Linked DNA regions of Homo sapiens: region 1 is linked to region 2. Evidence: fine-mapped expression QTL. Tissue or cell type: testis. Region 2 holds a variant in brackets; the other region holds the start of a gene. All regions are shown on one strand. Distances are between the middles of the regions.

Evidence for each region. PIP is the estimated chance that this variant, and not a neighbour inherited with it, causes the effect.
Region 1: it holds the start of MIER1, and the variant in region 2 is fine-mapped to the expression of MIER1 in testis (GTEx, PIP 0.94).

The regions. Positions count from the first base shown.
Region 1 is chr1:66,921,657-66,929,656 of GRCh38, reverse strand. It overlaps MIER1 (MIER1 transcriptional regulator), which reads right to left and starts at 4,667. Exons shown (of 14, transcript NM_001077700.3): 1 at 4,562-4,667; 2 at 3,415-3,515. The coding sequence starts at 4,628. It overlaps DNAI4 (dynein axonemal intermediate chain 4), which reads left to right and starts at 4,801. Exons shown (of 17, transcript NM_024763.5): 1 at 4,801-4,995. The coding sequence starts at 4,826. RefSeq lists enhancers at 4,369-4,648, 4,939-5,098 and a silencer at 4,679-4,798.
Region 2 is chr1:66,982,850-66,991,117 of GRCh38, reverse strand. It overlaps MIER1 (MIER1 transcriptional regulator), which reads right to left. Exons shown (of 14, transcript NM_001077700.3): 14 at 2,499-6,546. The coding sequence ends at 6,218. It also overlaps a transcript of SLC35D1 not described here. Among named protein-coding and RNA genes, the nearest start is that of MIER1, 62 kb to the right of the region's middle. RefSeq lists silencers at 6,345-6,545, 6,533-6,582. The variant T/C (reference allele first, on the strand shown) is at 3,766.

The DNA of each region.
Region 1 (8,000 bases), 61 kb after region 2:
GTTATGTACTGAATTTTGCACAACTAGACAAAATTTAAAATACTGAAAATTGACTGTTTTATGGATATCATCTATTTAGTAGCATGGAGGGAGAACCTACTTATTTGCAATGCCTGAAATGCCTGTAACTTGAAAGTTTATTTTAATGTATTGGCCTACAGCTGCCAATTGGCCGTGATGCCAATGCTGATGATGGCCAGAACCAATGATTTCAAAGTAACTAACATGTTTCACTTCCATTATACTAAGGCACATACTGAATAACACAAAGGTGACATTAAAACAGTCACTAACATATTTTACTAAACCAGTTTGAAAGTCTTTATTTCAAAAGACTGGGATTTTTTTCCTAATCTTCAAGGGTTCCTCTTAATGCAGTTTCAAAAGTGGCTACCAAAATCAACCATTTAAATACGAGAATTATTCATTCCTTCCAAATAATGTGAACCAATACTACATTGCATAAATGTGTACATATACAATTTTTCTTAAAGTTAATACTTAACTTATAATGCAATATAGGGGAGGCTATTAAATTATTTATATTCCCTTAAAATTCTAGACTCTATCAAGCATTTTCCTATTTCCAAAGATTCAATGTTAATTTGAAACTGTTATGTCCAATAATAATCTGTGCATGAATAAACTGCATTTACAGATATATGAAGTAGCTGCTAAGTGAAAGGACATTACCTGGTAATTTGACAGGAAAAGAGTCCACAGACAGTCTGTAAACCAATTAAACATAAACATCTGATGCACATTTTCTACTGAAAGAAAAGCAAGGGAAAGAAGAGAAAGGAAAACTTTAAGGTTCCCAAATCTACAAACAATTTTTACCATTAACTGTACTGTACAGTATTTTCATTTTATTTTTTAGAAAACTTATATAAAAGTGTTTTTCAGGATTCCTTGGGGGAATAAATATTTTAGCAGAGGTATATAGTTTCTAATAGTTACCCTGTTGAATTATGTCAATCCTCTGGACTTGAAATAAAAATGACTTTTTAAAAGTGTCAGTTCATATCCAAATAGTTTTCAATCAATACACTTAATGAAAAGAGCTGAAGGCAAAGAACAATGGATATACATGGACCTGAGGTGGGTACAGACACAATTAGGGGCCTAGAGGTACAAACTCAGGCTTTATACCATGGAGATGAAGGAGGGTTTTCCATTAACATATGAAAGCTAATTTATGAAATTTGGCTACCAAAGGAAAATTAAAAGTGTTACAATACAAGGTACAGAAATAACTTGCTTAAGTACACTGAATCTTTGATTCTTCAGTTAAACTACCAACAGAAATCCCAACTATGATAAAGAGCAGGGGATCATAGTCTATTAACCTACTGAATGAATCCTAAACTTGTCAGGAAAATGGAAGTCTGAAACATTTCTGAATGGGTATCTATCTTACTGTTAAATAACTCTTTAAGTTTATTAATATTGTGTATCAATATTACTAGTTTTAAATGGTATTATTATTATTGAGGGAAAAAAACTCTCTACATTTTTCCCCTTCCCCTTTTTATAAATGTGGATTCAGTGGGTTTTTTAGGTTCAGATATTATAAAAAAGAAACAGCTCTAATACTGCAATTCATAGGTAACACATTACCACTGAATTCAGTATCCTTCCACTATTATTTTATTTTAGTGATACACCTAACTGTAAAATTTTCAGGAGCCACCTTACGGAATGAAAAGTCTTTCTCAAAACGCTTACTTACCCTCTTCAGTATTAAATATATAAAAATTAACTATTCACTAGTTATAGAATTTTAGTGTTGGATGGGACCTTAGAGATCTTTTAGTCAATTCTCTACCCTGTCAAGATAGTAATCTCTCATCATGCTTCTACTACCAGGCTTTCTGCCTATGTTTAAACCCCTCCAGTGACTCACTATATCTCATAAAAAGGCTGCTCTTTTCAAAAAAAGTTCAAATGTTTAAAACATTCTTTCTTTTATTATGCCAGAATCTACCTCCTTGTTGTTTCCATCCATTACCCTTAGTTCTTCAGCACTTTGGATTAATTCAACAGATATCTTCTTTGTATCCAAATGCAAACAGTTAATATTTATACTTGGGTTAACAAAAAAAAATTTATTTTTAAAGCCTATTCATACTAGAAGAGTTGAAAATAGGACATGAGAGAGCTAAAGGCATAAGAAAATGCACCATTAATTGTGTCTGCTTAAAATTATTACACTTTGTTATTTATTAATGTGATATCCAAAACAGTAGTTCTGTTGGAATTGTGTATAAAATTTTTAAACTAAAAAAGTGTGCTGAATTCCAATTTTATGTGAGGTTTGTGATTAATGTCCCAAAACAAAAAACCACTATACAAAGCCTGAATAAATGCCTCTTCAGCTCCTATTCCCCACCTAAAAGCCTCCTTATTTTCAGGCAAAGTAACATTAATTTTTATGACATTAAGCTACTCAAAACTGCTATTATATTGATAAATCATTTGTAAGCAATTTACTGAATCTTCCATTCAAAAGTTATTGAACAATTCTATAGAGGCTATAAGGCGCACGCACACACAAACCCCTCAGTTATTATTATGCTTTTAACAAAAGCATTTAGGAGCACAATCTTACTTCAACCAGTACCTTAAACGAACCAATGAACAAACTTCTTTGGCAATTTACATATACCTAAGAAATATAACCTTTTATTCAGTACCAACACCTGATTCAAATACAAGTAACATATATATATATACTATATAAACCTATCTGTTATGCAATCCAAAAAGGTACCTCTCAAAATGCACCAAGAAAATACTGTACTTATAACAATTTAGACTCTGGGGTTAGCTGACTGAAATAGATTAATACAACACATCCAAAACTAAAAAATTCTATATCTAACAATTTTCAGCGTCCATGAGTCTCTTTTGAGATTAGTTTATAAACTATTTCCTGAAATTTTTATTTAAAAGCAACAGCCTACACCATGTCTTTATGATGTGGTGGTAAAATTTTATGGATAATTACTAATTTGGTTGAAAATACCTACATCTAAAAAACTTAGCCTATTACATTTGGAAGCCCCACATCTATAGTGACAATCAGCATCATCTTTCGTTAGTTTCATTTTTTGTTATTAATGCCACTCTAAAACACTTATATAGGCTTTTGGTTCTTCAAATAACAGTTTTGGATTTTCTTTTCATAATTTTTACAGTTTTATCCAGTGGCCCCATTTTATCAGAATATTACAAACTATGATTATGGTTTTTACATTGATGACATGTTATTTTTATCTCACCCAAATTCTGGAAATTTTTGGCCCATCAGTTCTCAAACACTGGAACATATAAGAAGAGTAATATAATCTTATATTACTTGAGGGAGTTTGGATTTTCCCTCCCTTAATCTCCAAGTGTACCCCTGCCTACCAGCATCACATCCGTCTTGTCTGCATTGAACCTCAACCAGTTGGTTCTTAACCACGTCCGAAACTCAGCCAGGCACTGGGAGAATCGAGCGACCACACCATCTGGATCAAAGGAAAGAGAGCCTCAGTAGCAAGGAGACAGAAACGATGATACAAGCTCACCATCCACCCTGTTTCGCATTTTTAAAAAGATGGTCGGGAATCAGGACAAGGATCCCATGACAATTTTAGAAAAACATTTAATGAGCCTTAAGTCATGCAATTTGTAACTAATGATAAAGGAATAAAAGCGACCCAATAAATAGGTCGCCTCATTCCACCCATAAGTGAAGAAGGTTCAGTCAACTCCGGGTCATCTTGGTGAAGCGGCCTCAATAGCCAAGTCAATCTTGTAATTACATAAGTTCTTCTGCAGAAATGCAGAATTCTAGCGTTGGAGGAAGCTTTAAATAGGGAAAACTGAAGCCCAGAGAGGGATAGTGACTCGCTCAAGGTTACACAGCATGCAGGGACCACAGATAGGCTCCAGGCCAGGGACCTAGCCACTACAAGCTGAAAGAACAAGAGTAAAGAGCGGCGGGCATCTGTCCCAAGGGATCCTCCCACGCGCTAGGAGGACCTCGTTTCCTTACAGTAATACCCTATTCGAGTCTCTCCTCCCTCCCTGACTCCATCCGAAAAGGGCAAGTTGGCCCAGGGCGCTGCTCACCATAAAGGCTGCAGTGCAAGCGAGAGCCTCCCGGGGATGGGACACAAGTGAGGGAAATACAGGAGAAAGAGGCGGAGCCACAGCAGGGTGGTCAGCTTAGCCCCACCCCGACTGGGATCAGGGACCGAAGCGAACGGGGCGAGGCGAACTCACTCCGCAGCGGATTCCCAGCGCGGCGCCACCACCGCGAAGGCAAAAAGGCGGCGCTGGGAGGCAGTCGATGGCCAGAGGGAGGAAGCTGCGCATGCGCCTTTGGCAGCCGGCGGAGAGCAAGCCAGGCGCGTTCTGCGGCAGCCCCTCCCCGGAAGTTAAGGGTCTTCCGGGCGGTACACTGCCGTGGGGGAGGGGAAGGAGAGAAAGGGGACTGAGGACACCTCAGGAGCCCCTCATCCCAAACTGGAATAGAAGGGGAGAGATGGCTTGTGGAGGCTGCACTTACAGCCGCTGCCGCTGCTGCCGCCGCCACCTTCGCTGCTGCCGCCACCGCCTGAAGAAGCCCCATCCATCCGCCTGCAGCCGGGAGACTCAGAGCCTGGGAGGGGCCTGAGGCCCGGGCCGCCCGCCTCCTTCTTCCAGTCGTCGTCCGGAGCTTCCTCCAGCTCCACCAACCCTCTGCCCTCCCCTCCGCCTCCGCCCTCCTCCTCGGCCTCGTGCCGCCAGCCAACCGCGCGGCCGCTTGTTGAGCCAGGGCTCCACCGTCGCCATGACGCCCGGCAAACATTCCGGAGCCTCGGCCCGAGCCGCTAACGGAGGAGCTTGGGGGTACAGGGACTTCAGAGGCGGCCAAAAAAAGGGGTGGTGCACCACTCCCCAGCTGGTCGCCACCATGCCAGTCTCTCCGGCAGGCAGTCACAAGCAGCAGAACTTCGGGTTGTAAGTTCCGGCGCTAAAAACCGTAGTCCATCCCCCTGGGACCCGGAGGGAGCCCTTCTATTAATAGATACCATTTCTGGATTTGGAAAGGGGCCCTACCCTAACTGGGTTCAGTCTGTAGACCTTGAAGCTCCTAGGCCACAATGTCTCCTTTATCGACCTACCGCAGTCTTTAAAAGAATCTCTACTGGGCTGGGCGCGGTGGCTCACACCTGTAATCCCGGCACTTTGGGAGGCCGAGTGGGGTGGATCACCTGAGGTCAGAAGTTAGCGTCCAGGCTGGCCAACATGGTGAAACCCCGTCTGTACTAAAAATACAAAAAGTTAGCCGGACGTGGTGGCACATGCCTGTAATCCCAGCTACTTGGGAGGCTGAGGCAGGAGAATCCCTTGAACCCGGAAGGCGGAGGTTGCAGTAAGCCGAGATCGTGCCGTTGCACTCGAGCCTGAGCAACAGAGCGAGACTCTGTCTAAAAAATAAGATAAAATAAATCTCTATTGCTGTGCTTGCTGTGTGAGAAAAGACCTGGTTTAGAACCATCGTTCTAGCACTTCTAGTTTGTTAAGGCCTGCAGTCTCTCAAGCTTGATGCTTTCATGCTGTGCCCAGACGTTCAAGAGCCTCAGCTTCTGTGAGCCACCAGGCCGAACATTGCTGTGCTCTGTAGTAGAGGTATTTTATTGTCGTCTCGTCAATACCATCTTACTTTAAAACTAATTCCTGCTTCCAACATTCTGTTGTTATGCAGCAGTTGAACAAGACTGTAGAAAAGCACACAGCTGTGTGGACTTGTCTTACTTTAAATGGTTCCTTAGCGCTGCCCGTAATGCTGCCCACTAAGTTCCCCCAAAATTCCCTAAGTAATTTGTTTTCTCTTCCCCTCTCCAATCTCCTCCACCTCAGCTAATCTTTCTTCAGCGGAACTTGTTGAGAGTTCTTGGGAGAGAACCTTGCATTCTCTCTTGAATATGGTACTCACGCTTTTGTCCATCCTACCACTCCATCAAAACAGCTTCTATGAAAGCCAGCAATAGCCATGCAACCAAATACAATGGCTGATCCACAGTTTCATTCTTTTTGAATGAAGCAGTGTCGGTCGGGTTTATCGCTTCTCGATCTTTGAAAAGCTTTATTTGGGTTCTGAGAAACCACTCTTCCTAGTTCTTGTCTTGGTTCATGGTTTCACCTTTCCCAGATCCTTTGCTGGTATCTGTTCCTCACTACCATAACTAAATACAGTCATGCATCGATGGTGATACCTTCTGAGAAATACCTTGTTAGCCAATTTCAGCATTTTGCAAATATCTTCTAGTGTACTTACACAAACGTAGATGTATGGGCTACTATACACCTAGGCTACAATTGTATAGTAGACTGTACACCTAAGCTATAGTAGGCTATACATCTAGGTTTGTGTAAGTACACTAAATGGTGTTTGCATAATGATGAAAATGCATTTGTTGCTTCTAGGCTACCAACCTGCATAGCATGTTACTGTACTGAATACTGTAGGCAATTGTAACACAATGCTAAGTATTTGTGTATGTAAACATAGAAAAGGTAATGTCTTGTGCTTGAATGTTGTGACAACTACAACGTTGTTAGACAATAGGAATTTTTCAGCTCTGCTACCAGATCACCATTGTATATGTGATTCATTGTTGATGATCCAGGACTGTATTGGTATTGCTGGGTTAGTCCATAAACCTCTTCACTCTGATGTCTTTAATATCACCTATAATGATGATTCACAAATGTTAATCTCTGGCTAAGACCTCTCCCAAGAAAACAGATTTTAAGAAAAAACACCTGCACTTATAAGTTAATAAACATCTCAAACCAAATATATAATATTTTCTGTCTTTTCTAATTAACTGCAATCTTTCTCATTTTAGTAAATGGCAAATTCCACTCTTTCACTTACTCAGGGGAAAAACCTTGGGATTACCCTTGACTTCTATCTTATACCTCACTCTATAAGCAAATTTTACCATTTCTACCTGCCAAATAAATCCAGACTACCACTCCCATGTAAATCACTGTGTTACATTGTGATACCCACCTAAATAGTCTCCTTGCCAACACCCTCCAGGTAGTAATCAATGTGGTTCTGCTCAAAACATTTCTCAAGTTTTTTCCATTTCACTCAGTAAAACTCTTTACAGGGCCCCACAGGATCTCACTATAGACTCTTCCTCTTGCCTAATTACATCCCACGTTGTCCCACAACACATCAGACACACTATATTCCCCCTTTGGAGCCTGTGCATATGCAGTTTTTTGGAATATTGTGCCCCCAGATAACCTCATGACTCACCTCCTTTAGGTAACTGTGTCAAAGAGTCCTTTACCACCCCATATAAAGTAATAATACTTCACCTTTGGAGCTCTTCAGTCCCTCACCTTTGCTTGAATTTTTCCATAAAATTTATTCCTGCCAGGCACAGTGGCTCATGCCTGTAATTCCACCACTTTATGAGGCTGAAGTGGGCAAATTGCTTGAGCTTGGGAGTTCACAACCAGTGGGCAAATTACTTGAGCTTGGGAGTCCACAACCAGCCTGGGCAACATGGCAAACCCCCATTTCTACAAAACATTGAGCCAGGCGTGGTGGCATGTGCCTGTAGTCCTAGCTACTTTGGAGGCTGAGGTGGGAAGATTACTTGAGACCGGGAAGGTGATGTTGTAGTGATCCGTGATCACTGCCATTGTACTCCAGCCTGGTCGACAGAGTGAGATTCCACCTCAAAAAAAAAAAAAAAAAAATTTCTACAAGTTTATTGTGTACCTGCTTATTCATCCATCTTCACCTAAGGATAGTACTCCAAAAAGGCAGAGATTTTTGTTTTGTTCACTACTGTATCCATTGCCTAGATTGAAGAAGGTGCTGAATAAATATTTGCTGAATGAATGAGTGTTTACTTCAGTAACATTGGTTACTGCTTATCTTGTATGGTTTTTGTTTTCACCTTAAGGTATAGAAATTTTAATGTAAAATTAAATTG
Region 2 (8,268 bases):
TTTATACTACTACTCAGATGGAAGTGAAGAATGGCAGCGGTACAAAGGGCAACTCAGGATGTATCCCCAAAGGCAGAATAGAACAATCACTGGAAAGAGTAGCCAGAGTTAGGCCCTAAGCAGGAGAGACAAATGATTATAGGCTATGCTATAACCTATATGCTAATATGTTCAGTGAGTAAGGGAAGAGGCACTGTGCTTGGATGTGGGTGTATGATGGTGAGGAAAACAGACTCGACCCTCCCCTTCAGGAGGCTTACTGTCGGAGGGGGAAATAGTCATGCAAAACCAAATGGCACCTGGGACAAGTGCTATGAGACTTCTTTAATAAGGGGGTCTGGCCACTCTAAGTCCACCACTCAAAAACAACCGTTACTTTTGGCATATGACCTTCATTACTTTTCCTAACTAACTATACATATACACGAAAATAGATCCCTTTGCCAAAACTGGTATCATTGTTTTCAAAGGTTCTACTACAACTCCCATCTGCTGCAATCCTAAGTGAGTTGTTTTATTCTAACCTACTAGCACTAGCTACAAGAATTTTGTGGCCAGGTGTGGTGGTCACACCTGTAATCCCAACACTTTGGGAGGCTGGGGCAGGCGGATTGCTTGAACCCAGGAGTTTGAGACTAGCCCTGGCAACACAGCAAAACCCTGTCTACAAAAAAATAAAAATTAGGGCGTGGTGGCGCACACCTGTCCCAGCCACTTGGGAGGCTGAGGTGGGAGGATTCCCTTCAGTCAGAGAGGTTGAGGCTGCAGTGAGCAGTGATCATACCACTGCACTCCAGCATGGGCAACAGAGCAAGACGTTGTCTCCGGAAAAAAGAAAAATTGCAGATGTAGTCCACGTATGTTCATGGTGTGTTTTTTAAATGCAAACATTTGTCTACTAAACACTAGAGGCAAATGCATAAGACAACAAAGGAGGCCACACAGCAGAGCAGTTCATAAAGCTTATAATTCAGGATGTTTGAAAGCTCAAAACCACCAGCCACCCAAGTAAATTTCTGTCATGTACAAATATGTGCTTAGAGGGGATTAAGGGAGTACCTTTCAAAAATAATAAAAAAGGATACACTTAGAATGACTGGCACCACTATTAGCTCCTAAGCAGAACTAGTTTCTCATGTTCACTCAGCTAAAGCACAGCTGGTGACAAGAGTAGACTAAGGAATTTGAAAAGCCCCTCTTGGGAACAAGCTCTTAACCTAAATCTAGATTTTCTGGTCAAGAATTTAAAGTGGCTCAGATCAATCTATTCTGATGCAGTTCTCTACCTGATCTTGTTTCTGGAAGAAACCACCCCCAATTTAAGGCCCGTATGTTTTCTTTTTAAAAATGTTTAAGCTCAGACATGGTGGCTCACGCCTGTAATCCCAACACTGGGAGGCTGAGGCGGGAGGATCACTCGAGCCCAGGATTTCCAGAGTGGCCGGGGCAACATAGTGAGACCTCACCTCTACAAATAATAAAAAAAATTAGCTGAGCATGGTGGTGCACAACTGTAAACCCAGCCACTCAGGAGGCTGAGGTGGGAGGATTACCTGCGCCCAAGGAGGTCAAGGCTGCAGTGAGCCATGATCTTGCCACTGCACTCCAGCCTACGCAGCCAACTGAGACCGTCTCAAATAATTTTTTAGAAGTTTATATATTCCTCATATTAATCCAAAGTCAATTTCAGGGATCATCTAACTTTGCTGAGTGAAACCATTTATTTTAGAACTACCTGAACTCTACAAATTCCAGTCAGTGTGCAGAACAACACAGCCAGCTCTACATTCAGTCAACCATTCATGTTAACAACGATGAGAATACCAAAAAGTGAATGTTCTATAACCAGGCCAAATTTGCATTAGGCGTCCTCTCTTCCAAACTTCAGAAAATCAGGCGATTCTCCACCTAATAAATAGTAGTGCTCATGGAACAGTGAATGACAAGAAAAAAGGGATGAGTCCTAAATAATCCACAGCTGCTGTTATGGTAGAACCAGCTCTGCAGGAAATTTTTTTTTTAAAAGACAAAATTTCTTAGGGAAAATCATGCATTTCATGTTGGTTAATTTCCAGCAAATACGAAGTTTGACAAAAGAAAAATATTTAGCTAGACTTACATGGCAAAGAGGAAGGTAAACTCATTTTCTTGAGATCGTGCCTATTCCTCTTTTTGCTGTCTCTGTACTCAGAATACACTTTACTTTTCTACCATTAACACTTTGCTGCCTTCTTGAAGAACAGGGCATGCCGCATCTCTGAAGCCACAAGCCAAGCAAGCATAGTACCTGGTACAAGTATAGGCCGAAATATTTGCTGGATATTAGAGTATATGGAAACATAATGAAAGCTTGTCATCATTGACATTTAAATGTGAAACTGTCACCATCAATTTGGACAATTAGAATCCATCTCATCTCGTTTACATGGCAATTCTTCAATATTCTTCACAGAATAAGTAGCCTTTAAAAGTGTGTTCAAATTACTTCTTACTCAAGAGCAAGCAAAATGACATTTTAATTACATTATACATTCTATAATTCTTTATACTAACTAAAGACAAATTGAAAATAATCATATTCTGAAAAGGAAAAACTCCACGTCCGTATAGTTGGCAAAAGATCAGCACAATACTAAGGGTACATGACAAGAGTTTATGGAAAACTGGTATTAGAAAAGAAAGGTTAATCAGATATTCAGATACATGAAATCAGTCTGTAAGTGGGTGGATGGATGTGTGGAAAACCCTTTAAGATTCTGCAAAGGATGAACTTGATATTAAAGAAGAGAGTTAATTTTTACGGTAAAAAGTTGTATCAGTAGAATTATGTGATACAGAAAAAGTCATTTTGAGAGAAGAGAGTCATTTTTAGAATAAAAGGTTAAAATTTGGAAACTCCTGTTCTTCTGTATGTTACATGGTTTTCCACACTGGCATTTTTCATGAATATGGATTATAGTTGGGAAAACCTTACTATCTGATTTGGTATTTAGTTACACACCCCATGTAAATATTGCCTATTATATTCACCAGCCCTCAGTTATTCCAAGTGCCCACTCCTAATTATCCATCGATAGCAAAGAAAATATTGTGACAAAACAAGTTTTATTTTGCAAAACATAATGTGATATGAACTCCACTACAAAATACGGGAACACATTATTTTTAAATTATATAATCCAGCAGAAGAGAAACAGAGTGAATGGAGGTCTAGGGACTGAAAGGATCTCTTGTGGCAAAGGGGAAGAAGACAAAAATACATCACCCAAGATGTGGTAAAGGGGACCAAGAACCACTGAAAAAGTAGTGCAATATGTCTAGGAATAGAAGAAACAGACTGTGTATATATATATATTTGCCTTGTCAATAACATGCATCATTCAAACAATCTCTAATAAAATCTTAGTGAATTAATCTAATGAAAATATTCACACAGTATTATGTAGGCAAATATGTTTAAAAAAATATTTTAATAAGCATATTCAGAATGGCAGACAAGGAATGGGAGAAGGGAATTATTTTACAGTGCAAAATTACTATGCATAAATTTAACATCTAATTTGAAATTTTAAATGCCTATTTAAATATTACTTCAAATACATTTTAAAGCTCAACAAACTTGTGTTGAACTGAATTGCAGATCCTGAACTCTATTTGAAAATACATCATGAAACAGAAAATACCCATTCCAAATGAAAATGATAGTGCTTTGTTGGGGGTGGGAATGAGGCGGGGAGACTAAATCACTATTAACAGACTTCTTTT[T/C]CCAATGCAATTTGTCAAAAGTTCAAAAGTTCTGAAATGTACTAAATCTTAAGCAAATTAAATTCATGATATTACTAAAACTTTTTAAATAGTGCAATGACTTATCAAGTTATAGTGGCTGCATTAAGAACAAATTATTGTGTGAAATACCTGTATAAACACAAAATACAATTAAATATTTCTTTACAAAAAGCTGAGCATTACGCATAATAGTGGAATGTCTTTCATTAGGTGTATTTTTTAAAGATTAACAAAAGTAACATTTCCTAAAATGTATACATGTGCCATATTTTTGCAAACATGCCTGAGAATGTATTTAAAACATTTCTGTAGTAAGAGTTTGCAAGAACTTCACAAACCTGCAAATAAAATGCATCTTTTTAAAAAGGTGAAAATGGCATCTCCAACACTGCAACAATTCAAAAAGTACAGCATCCCTAATCTTTAAAAACATTTCTACAGACCATCTTTGACAAAGAGCTAGGATACTTTGGATTCATTTAATAAAAAATGATTTAGAAAACAGATTGTGACCATCTGCTTGCTAAAGCTACTGCCATTCTGGATAAATTAAAAGTTTTAAGTAAAACAAAAACAACAAAAAACTCATACTTCTCAACACTTCCACCCAAAACTTTGATTTACTTAGATATGTATGTAACAACAGTGAATGTACATTAAGATGAAGTCAAGTGTTGCAAAGTGGCTTTTAACACTGTTTGGGAAAAAAAGTTGTTCACATTGGTGAAGGGAAGCAGTCCGAACATATGTTAACAGTAATACTTCATGGGGGTAAGGCCTGAATGCTAATTTCTCAGTGCAAACCTTCACTCAATTACATCAGACAGTTGAGCCATTAAAAACAAGACCACAGAAGCTTTATTTTAAAAAGGCATTGGCTCTTGAACTGATGGCTGAAAAATGAACTGGAAGAAGCATTTGGAGTATGCCTGTGTGAGAAAAACAAGAATAATTAATATTTTATAAAAGTTTGGATATAGGTTGGTCTATCAGCTATATAAAACTACATTATTTAACAAGAATTTAGCACTAAAAATAAAATGGCACTTTTACAAGGCTATGCAGATGGATAATCCTATCTGTAATCACACAGAGCAATGATTATTGTGTATCTTATTTTCACTTTGGAAAAGCATTATCAAATCTGAAAAATTGGATTGTAACTAGAAAAGTTTGAAAAGTTTTCAAACTTCACTTTCTCTTCATAAAATCGATACTGCCTGCCAACAGTTGTTCCTTGTGTGTGCCAATATCTAAGTATCACTTGACCCCCCTCCTCTGTTTATTTAATGCAGAAATGGGAAATTTTATGATGCATATAAAAATAACAGGATTCTGGTCAGCATGATATATTTAAGCACTTAAGCTGACATTAAACTTTTGTCTTGCTTCAAAAATAATTTTGAAAATTATAGCAAATGCAAAACAAACTGCAATCTAAGCATCATGCTTAATTTCAGAATTCTCAAATTACTTGCCCTTAAGTAGAAATTTAAAAAAAAAAAAAAAAAAAAAAATTTTATAATCCTTTATGAATGCTTTAACCACCTGGATAAGAAATATGACTTAATTACTACACAAACACTTAAAAATTCATTAGAAAAACCTTAGCAAAATAAAATGAAAGCTGACAGACTCAGAATAACAATTCCTCTCATAAAAGTTTACCAACTGTACAAGTTAAGAAAATTATACACGCTTTTGTATTAAGAAAGGACAGCTCAGTCAAGACATATGTACTGTAAAAATCTTTCAAAGGCTACAAAGAATCTGGAAAAATACAGAATGTATTTCTTAAGCCCAGATAAGAATATGGAAAGACATCATTGATGTCAACAATTTTACATATACAAACCTGACCTGGTTTATTTTTAAACTTCTATATATAAAAAAATCATGCTAGCATAATTTTCAGGATTCGTAAGGGTTTCCTTAATAAAGATACTCAAACTGTTTGGTGAGAAAAATGTCTGTTTTAAAGACATTTCAAGAAACTCAGAGAAATTGGTATTAAGCAGAAATTTGGACTTGAGTTTCCCATTCATCCATCAAACTAAGCAAAAATTACCTTGTAGTGAAATTTTATGATTAATACATCAAATGAGAAGGTACAGATACATCTTTAGTTCATTCAGATTTACCAAAATTAGTAAATCTGAATGAACTAAAGATATTCAAATGAGAAGGTAGAGATATATCTTTAGTTCATTCAAATTTACTAATTTTTAAAATACCCTTAAAAGAGTCTGACAGCTTTAAAGTAAAAAAATCTGCAAAAGGCAGAATTATGAAACCTCATTTCCTAAAGTTAAGACTCAATTCAAATTTTCAAACTGCTTCAAGGAAATCAACTTTTTAAGGTAACCCATCAACCCTGAAAATTTTAGTCACACCAGAATTTACTCCAAAGAAAGTAAAATAGGTCTAAAATTTAGTCATCTGTGTTTTCAAGTTCTTCAAATTTCCCATGTGAGACTGCTTCTTGGAAAAATTCAGAAGAACCTGGACTTTCTTTTCCATTGCTGTTTACCCTTCGCCTTTTGGCAGGTCTCTCACTTTTTTCATCAAAATCATTTTCATTTCTTGCAGTCATATGGGCAAGTTTTGGGTCAGTGGTAAGGTTATCTGTTTCATAACCATTAGTATCCATATCTGCATGAAGTGGTTTCTTATTTCCACCTGTTGGTCCATTAATGTGTAACCCTTCAACTTTTACTTCCTCTTTGTTTAATATTTCACCTGGTCCATTAGATGACACTCCTAAGTTGAAAGAAATATAAATGAAACCACAATTAGAAAAAAGTTAAATTTGCAAACTATTATAAAACAGCTTGTAGTTATTGTTATCAAGGAAGCAAGGTATCAAATACATAGTCTAAATTCTTGCTCTATTACTTATAAGCTATGTCGCCTTAGGCAAATTATTTACTCTTTCTGTATCTCCATTTCATTACATATATACAATGAAGATCATAATAGATATTCCTCACAGGGTTGTTGTGAAAATTAAATAAGTTAATAAATGTAAAGAACTAAGAACAGAATTTGGCATATGTTAAAAGCATATTAGGTATATGTGACAGCAAACAAGCACTGGATCCAGCAGTCTAACTAAGCTGAATTAATGGAAAATGCAGTAAATTACTCAGATTTAACAAAAGGTTTTCAACATTCTAAAACCACGTAAAAGCAAGATGAATGCTCTTTCTTTAAAAAGCTTGAGTAAACTGCCATATAAAAGCAAGATGTCATGACTTTTTTATTCTTAATGTAAATCTATGGGAACTGTACTTTAAAAGATCACACAAGGCTGGGTGCAGTGGCTCACGCCTGTATTCCCAGCACTTTGGGAGGCCAAGGCGGGTGTATCATGAGGTCAGGAGTTCAAGACCAGCCTGGCCAATAGGGTGAAAACTTGTCTCTACTAAAAATACAAAAATTAGCCAGGAGTGGTGGCGTGCACCGTCTCCCAGCTACTCGGAAGGCTGAGGCAGCAGAATCACTTGAACCCAGGAGGCGGAGGTTGCAGTGAGCCGAGATTGTGCCACTGCATTCCAGCCTGGGCGACAAAGCGAGACTCTGTCTCAAAAAGAAAAAAAAGATGATCACACACTATTTACCTAAGTAGACTTAAATAATCTGTCATAATGTTAAAAAACTAATGCCGCACTATCCAAGCATATACTTGAAAGTGCTAAATTATTTACTTAAGTAAATACAAATTACTTAAAAAGTAAATACAAATTCTATAGTAGGTGAGAAAAGTAAAAGCAAAATTATTCTAATAAAAGAAAACAAAAGTTCATTTTAGAGTTGACTGTAAAATGGAATGCAAATTTTGGTGATAAGAAGTAAAATATAGGGTGCATCACTGAATAATTACAATTTAATTGCTTGAAAAATATTCGGCATAAAGGATGAGCCTCAAATACTGTATTCTGATAGAAGAAAATATTCTATTTTGACCAACTCAATGCACTCAAATCATGAATGCACATGGGGATTATGCATCATAATATATTGAAGAGAACAATTCTGTAGGAACAAGTCCAAAAAGCTAGCTGACGACTGTGATTAGGTCAAAAATAACTGTAAGATTTCAAAGTACTAATTAAAGCCCCATATAAAAAAGTAATATAACATTGGGATGAAAAGTTCCTTCCTTCCTTTGAAAAAGCTGGCAGTTTTGACTGTACGTAATGTTGAGTGGCTTTTGAGCTACAAGTAATTTATAAGTAACTTATGAACACTTTCCTAGCCTAACAGCATGTTCTCATCAAATAGTTTCTTAAAAAGGAAAAGAAAATGATTTGGTGTTAATATGTTAAGAACAAACAGGAAAAACAATAGTAGTACCAACTGTCTGCCTCCCTTGAGCCTATACGGTTAGTCCCAAGGTCAGAGTCTCAGCATCTTATTCTACTTCAGAATGGACGTGACAAACATTAGACATCAAGTCAATAAACCTTCTTGGACCAGGAC